2 separate regions of the Homo sapiens genome follow, and region 2 is linked to region 1. The links come from fine-mapping of genetic effects on gene expression. Tissue or cell type: whole blood. Region 1 holds a variant in brackets; the other region holds the start of a gene. All regions are shown on one strand. Distances are from middle to middle.

Region 1 (8,101 bases):
AAATGTAGCTATTTTTAGGAAGTGAATTAGCAAGTCAAATATGAAGTCTACTAATAATACCACATTTCTGCTTTTCAGAGTCTTCATCACCTTATTTGCTCCTGCAACATCAGGGTGGGCTGGGCACTGAAGTAGGTGGTGAGCTCATCTGAAAGGTGTGGTCCAGAGAGAGGAAGTGACTGGTCCTGAAACGCAATAAGCCCAGCCTTCCTGCCCGCCCTGCTCAGTGGTACTCCCAGAGAGGGTGCAGTGCCCCAGAAGTCCCCTTCCCAGGGCCTGGCTGGCAGCCTCCCACCTGGGCAGGCTCCTCGGGGCACTCAGACCAGCCGCTGCCTCCCTCGCCTGTTGTCCTCTTGACCCTCCCACCCCATCCCCCAAGCTGAGGTCAGCCTCCTGCCTTTCCTGGCCCCTGGCAGACCTTGCTTCTGTGCTAGCTCCAGCCCAAACCTGCATTCTCACAGCCTGTGGGCCTCAGGTGGCCTCAAGGCCTGGCATCCAGTTGTATTTTTTCCCCTGCAAATTCCTTAGCACATGCCAGGGGTAGCTCTGAGCAGGAAGGCACGGGCAGCCAGCTTTGCAGCCTGAGCTCCCCTCAACTTGGGACCTCAGTTCCCCATCAAAAGGGACAACAGCCTCATCCCAAGAGGGGCTGGAGTTAGATCCAGCCCCTAGTCCTGCAGCCCCATCTCCTACCCCTTCCCCCTCCCCCACAGAAGCTCCTCAGACATCTGGCAGCACCAGACAGGGCTGGATGGACGGAAACATGAGGTCAGATCCTCAATTGCTTCCTGAGCCCTTCCCAGAGGAGCAGGGCGCTTCCCAACTGGGAAACAGCTGAGCTGCTCCATAAAGGAAACCGGAGAGGCGGGGAGGGATGGAGACCATTGCTGGCAGAGGAAGCGACAGCGCCCCTATTTCTCAGATGGGCAACTGAGCCACAAGCCATAGGCCAGCATGCTGTGGCCACCACAAGCCCCCACCTCTTGTGAAAGTCTCTACTGAGCCCAAGGGCCTAGCATGAGCCAAGGAGGGGGTTGGGCTATGGCTAAAAGGATATCTGGGCCAGCTCCCAGGAGCCTTGACTCCCAGGACAGGGACCTGTAGGGATGGGTCCTTCACTCAGACTCATGCTGGGGAATTCTGCAGTCAGGAAGGCTTCCCGGAGAAGGGTGCTGTGGGGGGCTCAAGGGCAACAAGGAGGGAGGAAGGCATTGAGATGGGCTCAGCAGGTGCAAAGGGCAGAGCAGAGGAGGCGCTCAGAGATCCCCCTCAGGTAACCGACCTGGCCTGTCTCGCCTCCCGGCACCGGCTGGCTTGCAGAGGAAGATCTGGGCTCATTGTCCATTGTAAGCTGGGTATGTCCCAGTAGCTCAGGCTCCTGGACCCTGCTGGGCCAGCAGGGAGGGGCGTTGTAGCAGGAGGGAGACAGGCCAGGCCATCCTGATGAGGAGAGAGGAGAAGGAGGGGCCTCCCCAGGGTGGCAGGCACAAGCCTGTCCAGGGAAACCCACAGCTGCACAGGGGGCAAGTGGGTGCCTCTCCCTCTATCCATTATCTGGCAGGATGAGATGGGCACTCTCCTTGCCTAGGCCCAGACCTGGTCCCCACAGCCGGGACCCTCCCACCCGGCATTGTCCTCCCTAGGGAGCCATGCTGGTTGTGGGACTGCGGCCATGCCTGGCAGGGGATGGTGCCGATGCTGACACAGCAAGAACCAGGCCAGCCGTGAACAAAGAAACATGGGAAGGGGCCACGTCTGCAGGAGTCGTTCCTGAGGTGGCGGCCAGCACCGTGGACTGTAGGCTGAGGAGGCACAGGACGGCCTCTCCCTGAGTGTTCCAGCCAGCATGTTCCTGATCAGATACTCGGGGGCCAAAGCTGATCAAGGCCCTCGGGGCACAGCTCAGTCCAAAAATCCCCATCACCTCCCCCCAGGGCCCAACCCCCTTCACTCGTGACAGAAAAGGCCTCTGAATCACCTCTCAACCCTGACAGCAGGGTCCGCTCACCACCCCCACTTTTTTTGCCATGATCCCCCTCAGGGTGGGAGGCGAGACTGGACAGGAACAGGGGAGCCCAGAAGGGCCCATCCTGGGCCCAAAGGCAGACAGCACCCATACAGCAGGGGCTGCAGTGCCCTGATTGGCTTGTGGCAGGTGTTGTGGGGGAGGCACCCAGTAGCAGGGCAGCTGGCCAGGTGTGGGAGCCCTGACGTTGGGCCTGTCACACAGCATCAGGGAAGGAGCTGCTAGTACCGGTGGGGCGAGGGCTGGGAGCCTCGGGGAAGCGGTGGCTTTTCAGCTGAGAGAGCGAGAAACATTGGCTGAAGTGGAGTTGGTGCCCCACTTTCCAGGAGGGCTGCCCACTGCCCGCAGGGCCCCCGGTCAGGGCGGGAGGGCTCGGCACCGAGAGGTCCACCGAGCCAGACCAGGCAGAGAGAGCACATGGACCGGCGGAGACCAAGGTCCCAGAGAGGTGGGGAACAGGAGGCGCCCCCTCCCCTGCCACATGAGGAAAGTGGGCATGCTGGGCAGGAAGGGAGGGGATGGTGCCAGAGAAGAGTGCCAGCGTCCAGGGTGAGGGAATGCCAGCACCATAGACTGTGGGTGGGGCAAGGTAGGCAAGTCCAGTGTGGCTCCAGGGTACCTCAGATGCTGAGATGTAAGCAGGGTAGGGACATTTTATCCATAGCCAGGTTCTGGGAGTGCCCGGGGACAGCATTACCCTTAGATGCAAGCAAGAAGGAGCCCTGCCCTGGCACCTGCATTCTAGAGGATTCCACTCCAGCCTTCCACTGGCCTTGCCCCTCCAACAGGGAAATAAAGTCCATGAGCCAAGGAAATGTGTCCACCCGAGCCCCACATCCCCCCTCCAAATGCAGAACCCCAGAATTCCCTGCCCACAGGGCCCCAAATCTAACTCCACAGCCCACGTGGGCCTTTCCGCTGGGCCTGCCTTCCTGAGAACCGACCTGCAGCGGGTGTGCACACCCCAAGGCCTCGGGAGTGGCCAAGGGGCAGCCACTGCTACGTATATGGATGGGTCTGGGAAGGTCACACACTGCCCAAGGGGGAGCCCGGGATGGGAGCTGGGGTTGGCTCAGCCTCTGCCTGCCACATTCCAGTCCTGCATTCCAGGAGCCCAAGAATTCTAAGTACAAACCTGGTCCTCAGGGTGTTATGAAGGTGTATTTGCTAATGTAGGAGGATAGAGCATATCCTATTTAGAGGTTGTTGGCTTGATTTATAACTTTGAAATATCCAGACATATAGTATGTGGGCCTCCATTTTTACTCCTGCCCTGGGCCCAGGCAATGTTAGGGGTAGGATCAGAGGGCAAGCCCTGGCCCCTGCCCCACCCCTCAGGAGACCCCTGCTCTCCAGCCAGTGAGCGCTGCCGAAGGAGGGCTGGGCAGGAAGCCAGCAGCCGAGGGAGCCCATATGCACCTGTGGACCTAGCTTCAGGGCTGGTGGGACCTAGCAGGCTGGGTCCTTGGGGCTAGGAGCAGGGGAACCCGAGAGAGCGCTTCTCCCAGGGTTGAGCTTCTGCTTGAAGCTGGGAAAGCCACAGAGAGGCTGAGCTTGTGGCCCAGGGACACCCAGCCTGGATGCGGCTGCTGTGCCCTCCCCCTGGAGGTCCCTCCTGCTTCCAAGGCTCACCCACCTGTGCATCCAGCTCGGAGCTCAGGGTGCTTCGATCCCTTTTTTGAGTTCATTCCTGTGGCCAAGCCCTTCCCCCACGGTTTCCCATGCTGGCACCTCAGGAGGATCCTGCCCCTTGTTCCCTACCCAGCTTCAACCCCTTCCTCCGAGGCTCCAAGCCCCCTCACCCCCCTCACTGCAAATCACCTTTCTTCCATTGGAGCCAGGATCTTAGCTCAGGGAGCGACCCCAGCCCCAGTATACAAAGAGAAGCCTGCGGCCCACAGTCCCAGAGCGAGGCTGCAGCTGAGCCCAGGCTAGGACGGGTCTCCTGCCCCACCCCTTCAGCTCAGGGGGCATCACCCACCTCTTTGGAGCCTCACAGACCCCCCTGGTTCAAATTTCCACTAACACTCTCTGTGATCTCCCACAAGCTGCTTTATATTCTGAGCTCCTTCATTTATGAAATGAAGATAATAAATTTTGCCTTGTAAAGTCGTTAGAGGGATTAGATAAAATACACGCATAGGCCAGGCCCTATGCCAAGAACACCTTAGGGCTGAGACCTCCTTCCCTGCCTCACTCTGGCAATGGACATTACTGAGCAGCACCAGGATCCCGAGGCCCAGACAGATGTGCCTCTTGCCCTCCAGGAGCTTCCCTCATGCTGGGAAAACAGACACCAGCCAGGAACCCGCAGGAGGCTCCCAGAGACGGGGAGTGTCCAGGAGGGAGACGAAGCTGGAGGCAGGAGGGGAGGGCAAGGGGTTGAGAAGGCTGGTCAAGGAGGGCCTCTCTAAGAATATGCCCTGAGGACCTAAGGGAACCAGTTGTGCAGCATGTGGAAGAAGAATGTTCTAGAGAGGGGGAACTCAGGACGGTGCCTTGCAGGTTCTCAGAAACGCCTGGCGCTTAT[C/G]TGAGCACACACTCACGGACCCTGTTACCACACCACAGCGGGGCCTCTGTGTGGGGCTGATAAGGCCAGAAAAGATCTCAAGATATTTTCTTTCCTTTTCTGTGAGTGGCCTGAGATAGGCTGTGTGGGGACATTTGGCTCACGGCCTGCCTCACAGGCCCCCCCCGTCACCAGGGCACCATGGAGCACTCACTGCTGGACCTCCCAGTGGGGACTCGGGATTGGCCCCCGAGGGGGGCTGCCAGCCAGTGCTGGGGGCCCATGCGTGACGGGGCTGACCTGGCTCCCCTGTCGTGACCCACAGAGGCCTGCTCTCTGCTTGTGCAGTCTCTGCCTGCTCGAGTGTACAGCGTACAGGCTCTGGGCTCAGAGATGAGGGCTGGAAGCCAGCTATGTCACCTTCATTCCCTCACCTGTAAAATGGGGGTGCTGACAGTAACATCGTCCTCAGAGGGTTCCTGTAAAGGAGTGGGGGAGATGGTGCTAGAGCCTGGCTCATCCAAACGCCAGGCAAGGTGGCTCACGCCTGTAATCCCAGCACTTTAGGAGGCCAAGGTGGGCAGATTGCTTGAGGTCAGGAGTCCAAGACCAGCCTGGCCAACATGGCGAAACCCCCGTCTCTACTAAAAACACAAAAAATTAGCTGGATGTGGTGGCGTGCGCCTGTAATCCCAGCTACTCAGGAGGCTGAGGCAGGAGAACAGCTTAAACCCGGGAGGTGGAGTTTGCAGTGAGGCAAGATCGCGCTGCTGCACTCCAGTCTGGGTGACAGAGTGAGACTCCACCTCAAAAACAAAAACAAACAAACAAACAAAAGCTCAGTAGGTGCTACTTCCTTTCTTACAGGACCTGTGCCTCCTGGGATGACCCCCACCATCCACCCCTAGGCACCAGGACTGAGTCGGCTCTGAAAAGAAATGGGGAATGAAGCTTTGGGACTTGGTTCCTGCCTTCAGGGAGCCAATGGTCCAGCCAGGGGGATTAGGGTTCATGTCCCTTCCTGGGCCTCCAGGAGGTCATGACCTTCAAAGCAAGAATGAGGAAGCCCACGATGGTAGCGTGGGGCCCTGCATGAAGTGCCTGTGACGGGAGATGGAAGAACTCTGTCATATGTCCGTGAGAGTGAAAGGAACCTCAAGCATTCAAGGAAACCAAACCGGTACCCAAGATAGATGAAGAGATCAGGAATTTACCAGGTCACAGAGGCTTCTTGGCAGCCACCTGCAGGAGACGGATAACACCATGGCCAGGGCCCCCATGCTCCATACCGTGTCTGTGACCTCCACAGACTCACTCCACAATGTGACTTTGGGTAGGTCACAGTACCTGTACGGCCTCAGCTTCCCCACCTGTCAGATGGGAAGAACAACAGCGCCCTCCCCATGAAGCCATCATGAGCACCACACCAGGTAAATCATGACCTGCTCTCGTGCATGCAGGGATGTCAATGAAGACGAGTTCCTTTTCCCTGAAGTGATGAAAGGGACTTTTAGAAAAGAGGAAGTGGGTGGATTCTTAGGAAACCTTAGTTCCATCCCAGGCAAGTGGCTCTGATGATTCAGTAGGTGACTTCCAGGTGTTCCCAGGAGGCGCAAGCTACCAAAGTCATGTCCTCTCACCTGAATTTTCATCCAGCCCAACCCTGCCTCTGGACACCTATCCCCTCTTGGGACCTCGAGGCCAGGCCTGGAGAGGATGTGAACGCCTGGAGGCCCTCCCAAGCCCAAGCAGGAGGTAGACGCAGGGACAGTGGGCATCTTCCATCAGGCAGAGCTTGGCCAAGATTCCAGCAGCACCCAAAGCCTGCTGAGCAACTCACAGATGCCCATGCCTGGCAGGCTGGTCTCCATGGTCAGGCCCCAGCCTCTCTCTTCTGGGCCCCTCTCATCCTGCTCCCCAAAGTCCCACAGGCTTCCCTGCCTCCATGACTTTGCCAAGGCCACCCACCTGCCCCCGTACACTCCTGCTTCCACCTCTGTGCCTGCAGGCCTGCCCTACCTGGAGGCCTTCCCCTGTGTTCTATGGGTTTCTCACCACATGGTCTCATCAGTTATCTATCAAAGCGGCTGACGCTCCCTCCACTCCTGCCTCTGCCCCTCCTTGCCTCTGCCTGTGTTCCCCCTCCCATCACCACCTTAGCCTGTCTCCCCTCCTTCCTCAGGACTCAGGAGCCACTGAGGCTGTGGGGCACCTGCCGACATTCTGCCTGGCCTCCCTGGCTTCTCAGCCTTCCCCCACCGCCTACTGCTGCCTCTGGGCATCAAACCAGCTGCTTGAGTCTTTCCCATCCCACAGGACCCCTCTCTCAATAGCCCCACACCCCCACACCTCCAGCCTCTGCCCTCGGCTCTGGAAAGCACGGTCTCCACCCACTGCCTCCATTAACCCCCTCCTCCCCATCCCCTTAATTCCTGGGATCTAACCCCTGCCCCAACATCCCACCGAGGCCACTGATCACCTCTCTGCTGTTATGTCTGGGGCACTTCACTGCCACCCCTGCCTCCACTCCTCAACACCATTCCAAAGCACAGACCCTTTTTTCTTTCTCTTCTTAAAACATGTGCCCATACTCCTGGCTCCTGAAACGCCCACCCAGATTTCCTGTCACCTCCCTGCCCACTCCATCACTGTCCCCTTCAAGGTTCCACTTCCTCCTCCTGGGGCCACCCTCAAAGAAGCCCCACCCAGGGGTCTGTCCTTGGCCTTTCTCCCCTCCCTTGCCTCCACCCTGGGAGACAGACCTCTCCCACCCCTAGCCTGCCCCTCCTCCTGCATCCTCAAGCCCCCCACCCTCTGGCTATTGAGGTCCAGACCACCTCCAGGATGTCCCTTGAGATGCCCTCCCTTCTCTCTCCCTTGTCCTCAGCCCAGATGCTGAAAGGGGCACCAGCTTTCACCCCTCCTGATTTCATCCAGTCTCAAGCCGTTAGATGCTGTCTGTACTGTCCACACCCAAACAGACGCCTGACTGTCCTCCCTCCCCCAGCCAGGCCTCTCCTCAGCCGCCCACATGACACTCCACTTGGATGTATAACAAGCATCTCAGCCGTTCCAGCTCCCGCTCCCCACAGCACCCCAACCCGCTTCCCCCACCACCGCATTCTCCCCACCCCCGGCTGGCAGCTTTCTCCTTCCTGATGCTCAGACCAAAAGCCTTCGAGGCATCCCAGACCCCTCTCCCTCTCCCATCCACTGGCAAACCCTACTGCTCTAATCTCAAAGGAGACCCAGAGTCAGACTGCCGCCCCCACCCTGGGCCAGGCCCCCATCATTTCTCATCTGGATCATTGCAGGAGCTTCCTAATTGGTCTCCCTGCTCCCACCTTTTCACTCCTGCCCCCAGGTGTTCCCAGCACAGTGGCCAGAGCCGTCCTGTTCAGATATGTCACTGGATCGCACCTCTCCAGTTGACGCTTCCCAATGGCTCCTGTGTCGCTCTCAGGAAAAGCCGGGGAATTATTGCGTGCCCTGGCCTCCTTGCCTGCATCCTCTGCTCTCCTCCCTGCACCCTCCTCTCTCTGGCTGCACTGCAGAGGCCTCCCCTG
Region 2 (8,101 bases), 45 kb after region 1:
CTGGGGTTCAGTAAAAGGCAAAGACTTGCCCAGTCACAGAGCAAATTAGGTCACAGCCTGAACCAGGCTCCCGACCTCCCAGCTCTCTCCCCTATACCATGGTCATCATTGGACCTGTGCCAGCGTCCATTCCACCGGACCTGCTCTCAGAATCTTCACTGTCCAGGACAGAGGGGTCACAGAGCTTGGTAGGAAGCTCCTGGTGACCTCACCAAGCATCTCTCTTGGCTTAGGAAACTCCCCCTCTCCTCCGGGGAATTGCCCCCCCACCATGAGACTCTGTGGAGGGAGTTCACCTTGAAGGTGATGAACACATCTAAGTCCCCAAGGGGGCAAGGATTTCCACTGGAAATGCTGATGCTTGGGAAGCCCCAGATGTGACCTCATCCCCTGGAGGAGGTAACAACAACCTCCTGCCCTGGGGAGCAGCCCCAGAATGGCTCCCCAGCAGCCACCAAGTCAACAATAACATCCCGTTGTTTCACTGGACAAAAGCGAGGGAGGGCAGAACCAGCCGGGCAGGTTGAGACTGGGGATATGGGTTCTGTTTCCCCATGGACAGGCTGGTTCACCTCTGACCTTGGGGTTCCAAGCCTTCTTTAGCTCCTCCAACCACTGATAAAATGGAAGAGGGGTGCACAGCTTACAAACGCATGCCAACCTCCTGCTAAGCCCCAGCCCTCACCTGCAATCTACTCCCTTACAGTTCCTGCTTACAGGAAGATCAGGACCACACATGCACATCCTTGACTGGCCCATGTGTCAGTGACAGCCCTTGGGGGACAATCCCTACAGCCTTTCTTGCTCTGGCAGGCTCTAAGGGTCAAAGACAAGTGTGGAGCTCAAGGACACCCAGCAGGTACATGATGGCCCATCTCTCTCCCTGGCCTGAGCTACGCTGTGCCAGACTTTCATCAAGCTGCAGAGGCAGCAATCTCCCTGATCAGTGCAGGCTGGGCCCCTCTCAGAGTTCCCTGCTTTAATCTTTCTCTAGAACTTGGGGATCCAAGCAGCAGAAAATAAAGAACTTTCCATACCTATTCCAGTCCCCACAGCTGTCCTGACTCAAAACTAAAACCCCCATCTATGCCTCATAGAGAAATGGCTCCAGAACCACCACCATCCCTGATTTTGTCATTCCTGGATACCACCATACTCCCACCCACCACTGGTAGACAGAGCTCTAGGCTTCCAGAAAGACCCCCTCTTACCCTGTTCCTGGGTTTGTCCTACCCAAGCCCATTCCTGTCCGATTGCCATGTGTCACCCCACAGGAGACAGGAGGCAGCTGTCAGTCGGGCACACCATCACCAGCTGGTGGCCCTGGGGGTGGGGGGCAGGTGAATGGCAGGGCCTGTCTGGCCAGTGGGGCACCTGGCACTGGTGAAGGAGACCACAGACTGTCGTTGGACAAGACTGGTGAACGGTTGGCAGACCCCAGCCAGCGGGGCTCAACAGTGCATTACTAAGCAGAGGGCACAGCCAGTGTGGCTACAGCAGTGAACTGCGGGCGGGGGGGTAGGCCATGGAGCTGTGCTGGGAGCTTCGAAAAGTGGGTAAGAGGACTGAAAGCAACTTTAAATAGCCTCAGGGTGGGAACTAAGTGCCCAGGATGGGATGTATGCATTAAGTGCTAAGAAGTGGGTGTGCATTAAGTGGGGTGGGGGTGGGGGGTCATGGGAAGACTTTGGGACAGGCAAACAGAGTCAAAATGCAAGGGGTTTGATGGAGGGAAAGATTCCAGAACACTCAGATGTGGCCATTTGTCCCCTCCAGAGTGCCCACACGCTATGATGTCCAAGACAGCCAAGGAGACTGAGGGAAGGCAAAGCTGCTGGGAGGGCAAAGGAAGCTTGGGCTGGAGCTGGGATGGCAGAGGGGTGTGCAGGCCTCCTCCATGTACAGGCGGCCGGAGCTCTAGCAGCACTGCTCGGCTTCCTCCAGGAGCACCTCAGGCTGGGTAGCCGAGCTGGTCCCCAGAGCACCTCATTCATGGTCCCTGAACCACCTAAATCCTTCTCCCCTCCCTAACCCAGAACCTGGACTGGTCCTGTGCCAGATCAGAGCCCCTGCCTGCACCTGGGCTCCCACACTGCTCAGTGACCTTGGGCAAGTCACATTCCCTCAGCTACTGCGGCAGTTCGGGCCACTCGTTTTGTGTATGGTTTTTTTTCCCCTCTGCTAATAATACCTGCCCCAGATAATGCTCAGACTCCCGCAATCCCTGCAAACTGCCAAAGGCATCAAAAGGCTCCCGGTGGGGCCAGACCCGACCAGTTCCCCCAGCCCCCACTGCGAGTCCCCCACCATCACGACAGGGGGGCCGCAGACACGCCAAATTTGGGGACAGAGCCGAATCGGACTGGGGGCGGGGAGGCATTTGTGTGCAATGCAGGGGAGGGGAGATCAGTTCCTCGCGGCAGAAAGCCTCAAACCCCCGCCTAACCGGCTTTCTGTCCCATAGTACAGGGTCTAAACTGAGGTGCCCTGGGGGAGACTCCAGTCCCCCAGGTTCTTATTATCTACCCTGGCCTAAAGGCTGCACCCCCGCCCTAGATCCACCGCCTGGGGGTCCCAACGGCCGTGCCCCACCCAACGGGCACTGCCCCCCAACGCTGGAGCCGATTTCTGGTGACAACTGCCACGTGCGGGCAAGGGGGGAGCGGCCGGTCCCGGCATTGCTGAGGCAGCGCCCTGGTACCCCAAGCCGCCGCACCGCACCATGTCCCGCCGCTCGCTGCAGGATGCCCACCCCCTTGCCTGGCCCGAGCTCCGGGCCGGGGCGGGGGCGGGGGCAGGCGGCGGGGTCTTTGTTCCCGCTGCCGAAGCGCGGCGGCGGCGGCAAGGGGTCCGCGCCCCCCTTGCCGGCCCAGCCTGCGCCCCGCGCGCCAGCAGAGCCCGCAGCTCAAAAGGAGGGTACCCGGGTTGGGGTCCCAGGCGGGGAAAGGTCCTCCGCCGAAGCCCCCGAGCCAGAGGACCCAGAGTGGCTCGGGGCCGAGAGAGGGGCCCGCCCCCTCCCCTGGCGCCCGGGCGTTGCGGCTCCTGGCTGCCAGGGACTTGGTGCGACTTAGCCGGGGCTCCGGCCCCCGCCGCTCGCTCGCCGCAGCGTTACAGCCGGCTCTGGTGTGCCAGCGTGTACACTCACACACACTCACCCAAACCCACACGCTCCACGCGGGGACAGCGCGGGGACAGCCCGGGACCCGCAGAGCTGCGCGCACGCACTCCCTCCGGGTGCAGCACACTCCGCACCCGCCCCGCGCAGCGTCTGATCCCGCGCCTGACCGGCCGCGCGGCGCCGCCTACCTTTCCAGACGGCGAAGATGCGGGGTCCGCTCCTTAGGTGGCCCTGGGCGGAGGCGGCGGCCGCCCAGAGCAGCAGCAGCAGCCGCAGCCGCAGCGGAAGCCCCAACCGAGCCGGCGGGCCAGGGACGCGGGCGCGCGGTGCGCTGGGGGCGGCACGTCCGGGCGGAGGAGGCGTCATCCCGTGGCCCCGGGAGCGACAGCGGCAATCAGCCGAGACTGAGCCAGCGCCCGGCCGCAGGCAGACCCAAGCGCCAGGAGGCGGAGCCAGCGCTGACCCCACCCCGCCCCTCCCCCCGCCCCTCGCAGCCTTTTCTCGCCTCACTGGCTTTCCTGAGCGAGAGCGGAACTGCTGGGGGAACCTTCGCCACCCTCTCCCGGGCAACTCTACGGGGAAAGCCCAGCTGCGGACAAGCCAGACTTGTGGTCTTCTGCCAGGGGCGGCAGGCCCTATCCCCTCTCTGGGCCTCAGTTCCACTCCCCGCACCCCGTAAAAAGATTGGCGTAGAAGTCGTGGAGGACCTCTCTCCAAGGGCGCAGAGGAGTCCAACACCCAACAACCTTGCTATGGCCAGCTAAGTGGTTCGCACCCTGAGGACTATGGTCCTCGGAGGATGCGTTCGCCTAAGTGGACACGGCTCCCTGCTGAGCCTACCAGCAGGCACAACGATGATATGTGGGGAGCACTCAGGGACCCGCTGTTGCTTTGCCTGGGAGAACACTGGAAATTTTTCATCTTGGCCTGGCTCCTTCCCCTCCCTCTCCTTTCTCCTCCCTTTCCCAGCCAGCAGCCTTCTGGGCTGCCTCCCCCCAAGCCAGCTGGTGTACGCTCAGAAAATCCAAACTCATTTCCATGTGAGTGGAGGGGGATATAATTAGGAAGGCCCCTTCCCCAAGTAGAGAGGGGAGCATCCCCCGTGCCCCACTCACTGTGGGGGAGGGAGGGTCAAAGCAGCTTAAGGGGATCTCTGCCCGCAAAGTGCCTAGGGCTCAGCTATCTCAGGCAACCTGACCATTCAGTGGGGACTCCCTTGGGGGGTCCAGGCCCAGACCCTCTGCAGTTACCTGAGCAGTCCAGCCAGCTCTGCCATCAGCTCCTCCTCTCAGAACTACGTGCCTGCCCTTTGTAAAAGGGTCTCCTCTCTCTAGACCAGACAGGGCCCAGACCTACCACTTCCACTTGTGCCCCAGGGAACCATGAATGGAAAATCCACCCAGCTCAGTAAGTACTTATCTAGTGTTTACTGGATGTCTAGCTGCACTGAGAGGAGACAGGCCGAGGAAGGAGTAGAGGTGAACATCCAACCTTCAGAACTCACAGACCTAGACACGATTCACGCACTGCAGACACCAGCAAAGGCGGTGGGCTGGCTGCCCTCTGCCCTCTGCCCTGCTCCATGGGGCCAGGACCATTTGGTTGTTGTTTTTACCTCCTGGAACCAGGAAAGTTTTGCTACCAAGAAGTTTGGCTTTACCATTCTACATTTTGCTTCCAGTTGTCCCCTCCTTCTTCCCTCAGAGTCCTGAGGCACCCCAGCAGGCCAGGAAGGTAAACTCAAGGTACCTCCAGAGACAGTGCAGAGTGAGGTTCCTGGCCCACTGGGTGAAGCCAACAGCCTCCTGATACACAGGGGCACACTGCCCCAGAGAGGGAGGCTGTGGACAGTCTAAGAGCTCCTCCTCAGGCCTGCACCTAAGCCTGTGGCCCTGAAGCCAGCAGTGGAGCCTGGCCCAGGCCAGCCTCTAAGATGGACATTCGGTTTCACCTGCTAGACAGGTATTGCCCTCAGTGTCTGTCCTCTCTATGCAAAGCTAGGGCAAACTAAGAAATCACCTGTCTCTGCCTTTTGGAACTAAGAATTCAAATGGATTCAAAATCAATGATAACACTGCCCATGTGCATGGCAACTCACAACACATAACCCACATTCACCTACCTCATCTCTGCCAGTCCTCCACTCTCTTCCTCTCACTGAGGGAGGGAGCGTAACTCCACTGCAGAGAAGAAAACTGAGGTACAGGGAGGGACAAGGACGGACCTGCCCGAGGTCAACCGGTAAATGGTAGAACGAAGATGGGTTTTCTGACTGCAATAACAATTGCTAACACTGTGGTTCCTATGTGCTGTGCCATCTCATAGCCTCTCCCAACTCATTCAATCTTCGCACTCCTATGAGATAGGAGCTATTAGTCACCTCCCTTTACAAATGAAGAAATCAAGGCACAGACAAGGGATGTGAAGTGCCAGGATCGCACAACTAGAGGCAGGACGGATTGAAACTCAGGTGGTTTCTCAAGGACCCACACCCTTGACTTCTCTCTGTGTGATGTACCCTGGCACTGCTGCCTCCTGTCTGTGGCTGAAGTCTGGGTCCAAACCATCCCCAGAAGGACCTAGATAGGGCCCAGGTCACCAGGTGCTGAGTAGGAGGGCAGACCAGGGAATGGGCTCAATCTCCCAATCAACAGAGTAGCAGATGGAAACTGGGGTAGATGCCAGATAATTTTTTTTCCAGACTGGGGGGTAGGGGGGAAGGAAGTAGTACTTAAGACCATCCTCCCCACAAGCCAGCCAACCTGGGGACAAAGGGCCAGGCGAGATGGCAGCCCACTCTCTCGGTTGGCTGCAGGCAGCCAGGGGAGGAGAGAACTAAGCCCATGACTTGAGGCAATAACTTTATAAAGGGAAAGGCAGCTAGACTGTGGGGCAGGCACTATGACCAGAGTTTAGGCATGGACTTTCCTGCCTCAGGCAGCATAGGAAAATCAAGTCAGAATGGTATAGGTGGTGTCAGAGGCCTGCCTGCCTCATTGGAGGCCAAGGCTGGCTCTTGAGCCTGGACCAAGAACAGGGGCACAATTCCCACTCACAGCCAGTGATGGGAAGTGGACCAGCAGAGGAAGCAACACATGTGGATGCTGACACGTCTGATGGGGAGGCACATTCTTGTCCCTCCCTTCTCCATGATTCCACATTCAGGGGAGGGAGGAAGAAATGATGCAGGGCTTCTATCGATAAGAAAAATACCTTGAGAAGGATCACTTCCTGAGCCCCATGGACAGCTGAGGCACAGCCCAATCCAAGAAGGCTCCTTTTGGAATGAAAGAAATGGATACACACAGACCTGAGATTCATGGTCTTGAAGCAGTGGCAGAAGCCCCGGGCAATCCCCCCAACATTCCAACTAAAGCCTCTCACCTTTCAGGGTCCAACTTAACTCATCCTTCCATTCTCCAGAGTTATCTGACCTCCTCCTCAGCCCTGATTCCATGGCTACACATGGCCTTCACAGGAGTGACCCACCTCAAACAAGAGGCCTGTGGGAGATAGAAGGATTCCGTGAGGAGATAACATATGCAGACGTGAGGTCACCCACACACAGTTCACTTCCTTTCACAGATACGATGATCCAAGAATCCCAATTCTTAGGATTAGAAGTAGCTCTCAGAGGGCATTCAATCCCCAACAGCCCCCTCCATGCTAGATCCCACCCCTTCTTTGAGGCCTCAGAGCTTGGTGGCCATTCAGACCTCCTGGCTACTAACAGCAGCAACAATTCCTATTGCCTACCACCATTACTACCTATTGCAGGGGGCAGAGACTTGGAACTGATGAGAACGAGGGGAGTGGGTGGGCTGGGGTCTGCAGAACCCTGTGCTGTCTATAAGGCAATTTCGACTCAGCTCCAGCCCATGGAACCATGAAGAAGTAAACCCAGTAGTGAAAGGTAGTATGATTTTCAAGAGAAGCTGAAAATTGAGGGCTGGGCACGGTGGCTCATGCCTGTAATCCCAGCACTTTGGGAGGCCAAGGCAGGTGGATCACCTGAGGTCAGGAGTTCAAGATCAGCCTGCACAATATGGTGAAACCCCATCTCTACTAAAAAATACAAAAATTAGCCGGGCATGGTAGCGAGCGCCTGTAATTCCAGCTACTTGGGAGGCTGAGGCAGGAAAATCACTTAAACCCAGGAGGCGGAGGTTGCAGTGAACCAAGATCGCACCACTGCACTCCAGCATGGGACACAAGAGTGAAACTCTGTCTCAAAAAAAAAAAAAAGAAAAGAAAAGAAAAAAGAGGCCAGGGGTGGTGGCTCACGGCTGTAATCCCAGAACTTTGGGAGACCGAGGTGGGTGGATCACAAGGTCAATGATTTCTGTCCTAATCATTCTACATGCATTTTTATCTGACAAGGTCAGGAGTTCGAGACCAGCCTGGCCAAAATGGTGAAACCCCATTTCTACTAAAAATGTAAACATTAGCCGGGCATGGTGGCACGCAACTGTAATCCCAGCTACTTGGGAGGCTGAGGCAGGAGAATCACTTGAACCTGGGAGGTGGAGGTTGCAGTGAGCTGAGATTGCGCCATTGCACTCCAGCCTGGGTGACAGGGCGAGACTCCATCAAAAAAAAGAAAAGAAAATTGACTCTTTGTTGAAACTCTCTCTTTTAAAATATTGGCAAATAATTCAAAAGTTAAGGAGGATGGATATGGGCAAATAAAAACAGGTCTGGGGCCCATATCTGGGACCCCCAACATACCATGTGCCCACTGTGACTATCTCACAGGCACAGGCACGACAGTCACTATACCTGGCCCAACTCTTGGCAGACCATGTCAGGCAAGGAGTGCCAAGAAGACACTTCTCAGGCTGCCCAGGCCATGCCTCACCCTCCCCTCAGTGCTCTGCCTGCCTCCAAACCTCAGCCAGGACATTCCCCTCAAGTGCCTGCCTCTTCCTCCTAGACCAGTTCAGAGATCACCACCTTCCATACATCAGTTCAGCCCACTGTGAA

The links. PIP is the estimated chance that this variant, and not a neighbour inherited with it, causes the effect.
Region 2: it holds the start of SEMA7A, and the variant in region 1 is fine-mapped to the expression of SEMA7A in whole blood (TOPMed, PIP 0.96).

What each region holds. Positions count from the first base shown.
Region 1 is chr15:74,385,117-74,393,217 of GRCh38, forward strand. LINC02255 (long intergenic non-protein coding RNA 2255) reads left to right here. Exons shown (of 4, transcript NR_146881.1): 3 at 5,403-5,965. Among named protein-coding and RNA genes, the nearest start is that of LINC02255, 10 kb to the left of the region's middle. RefSeq lists enhancers at 1-387, 1-102, 915-1,455, 1,456-1,996, 1,734-2,053 and 3 more and a cis regulatory region at 7,218-7,772. The variant C/G (reference allele first, on the strand shown) is at 4,557.
Region 2 is chr15:74,430,435-74,438,535 of GRCh38, forward strand. SEMA7A (semaphorin 7A (JohnMiltonHagen blood group)) reads right to left here and starts at 3,524. Exons shown (of 14, transcript NM_003612.5): 1 at 3,307-3,524. The coding sequence starts at 3,484. RefSeq lists silencers at 2,687-2,806, 2,957-3,106, 3,157-3,666.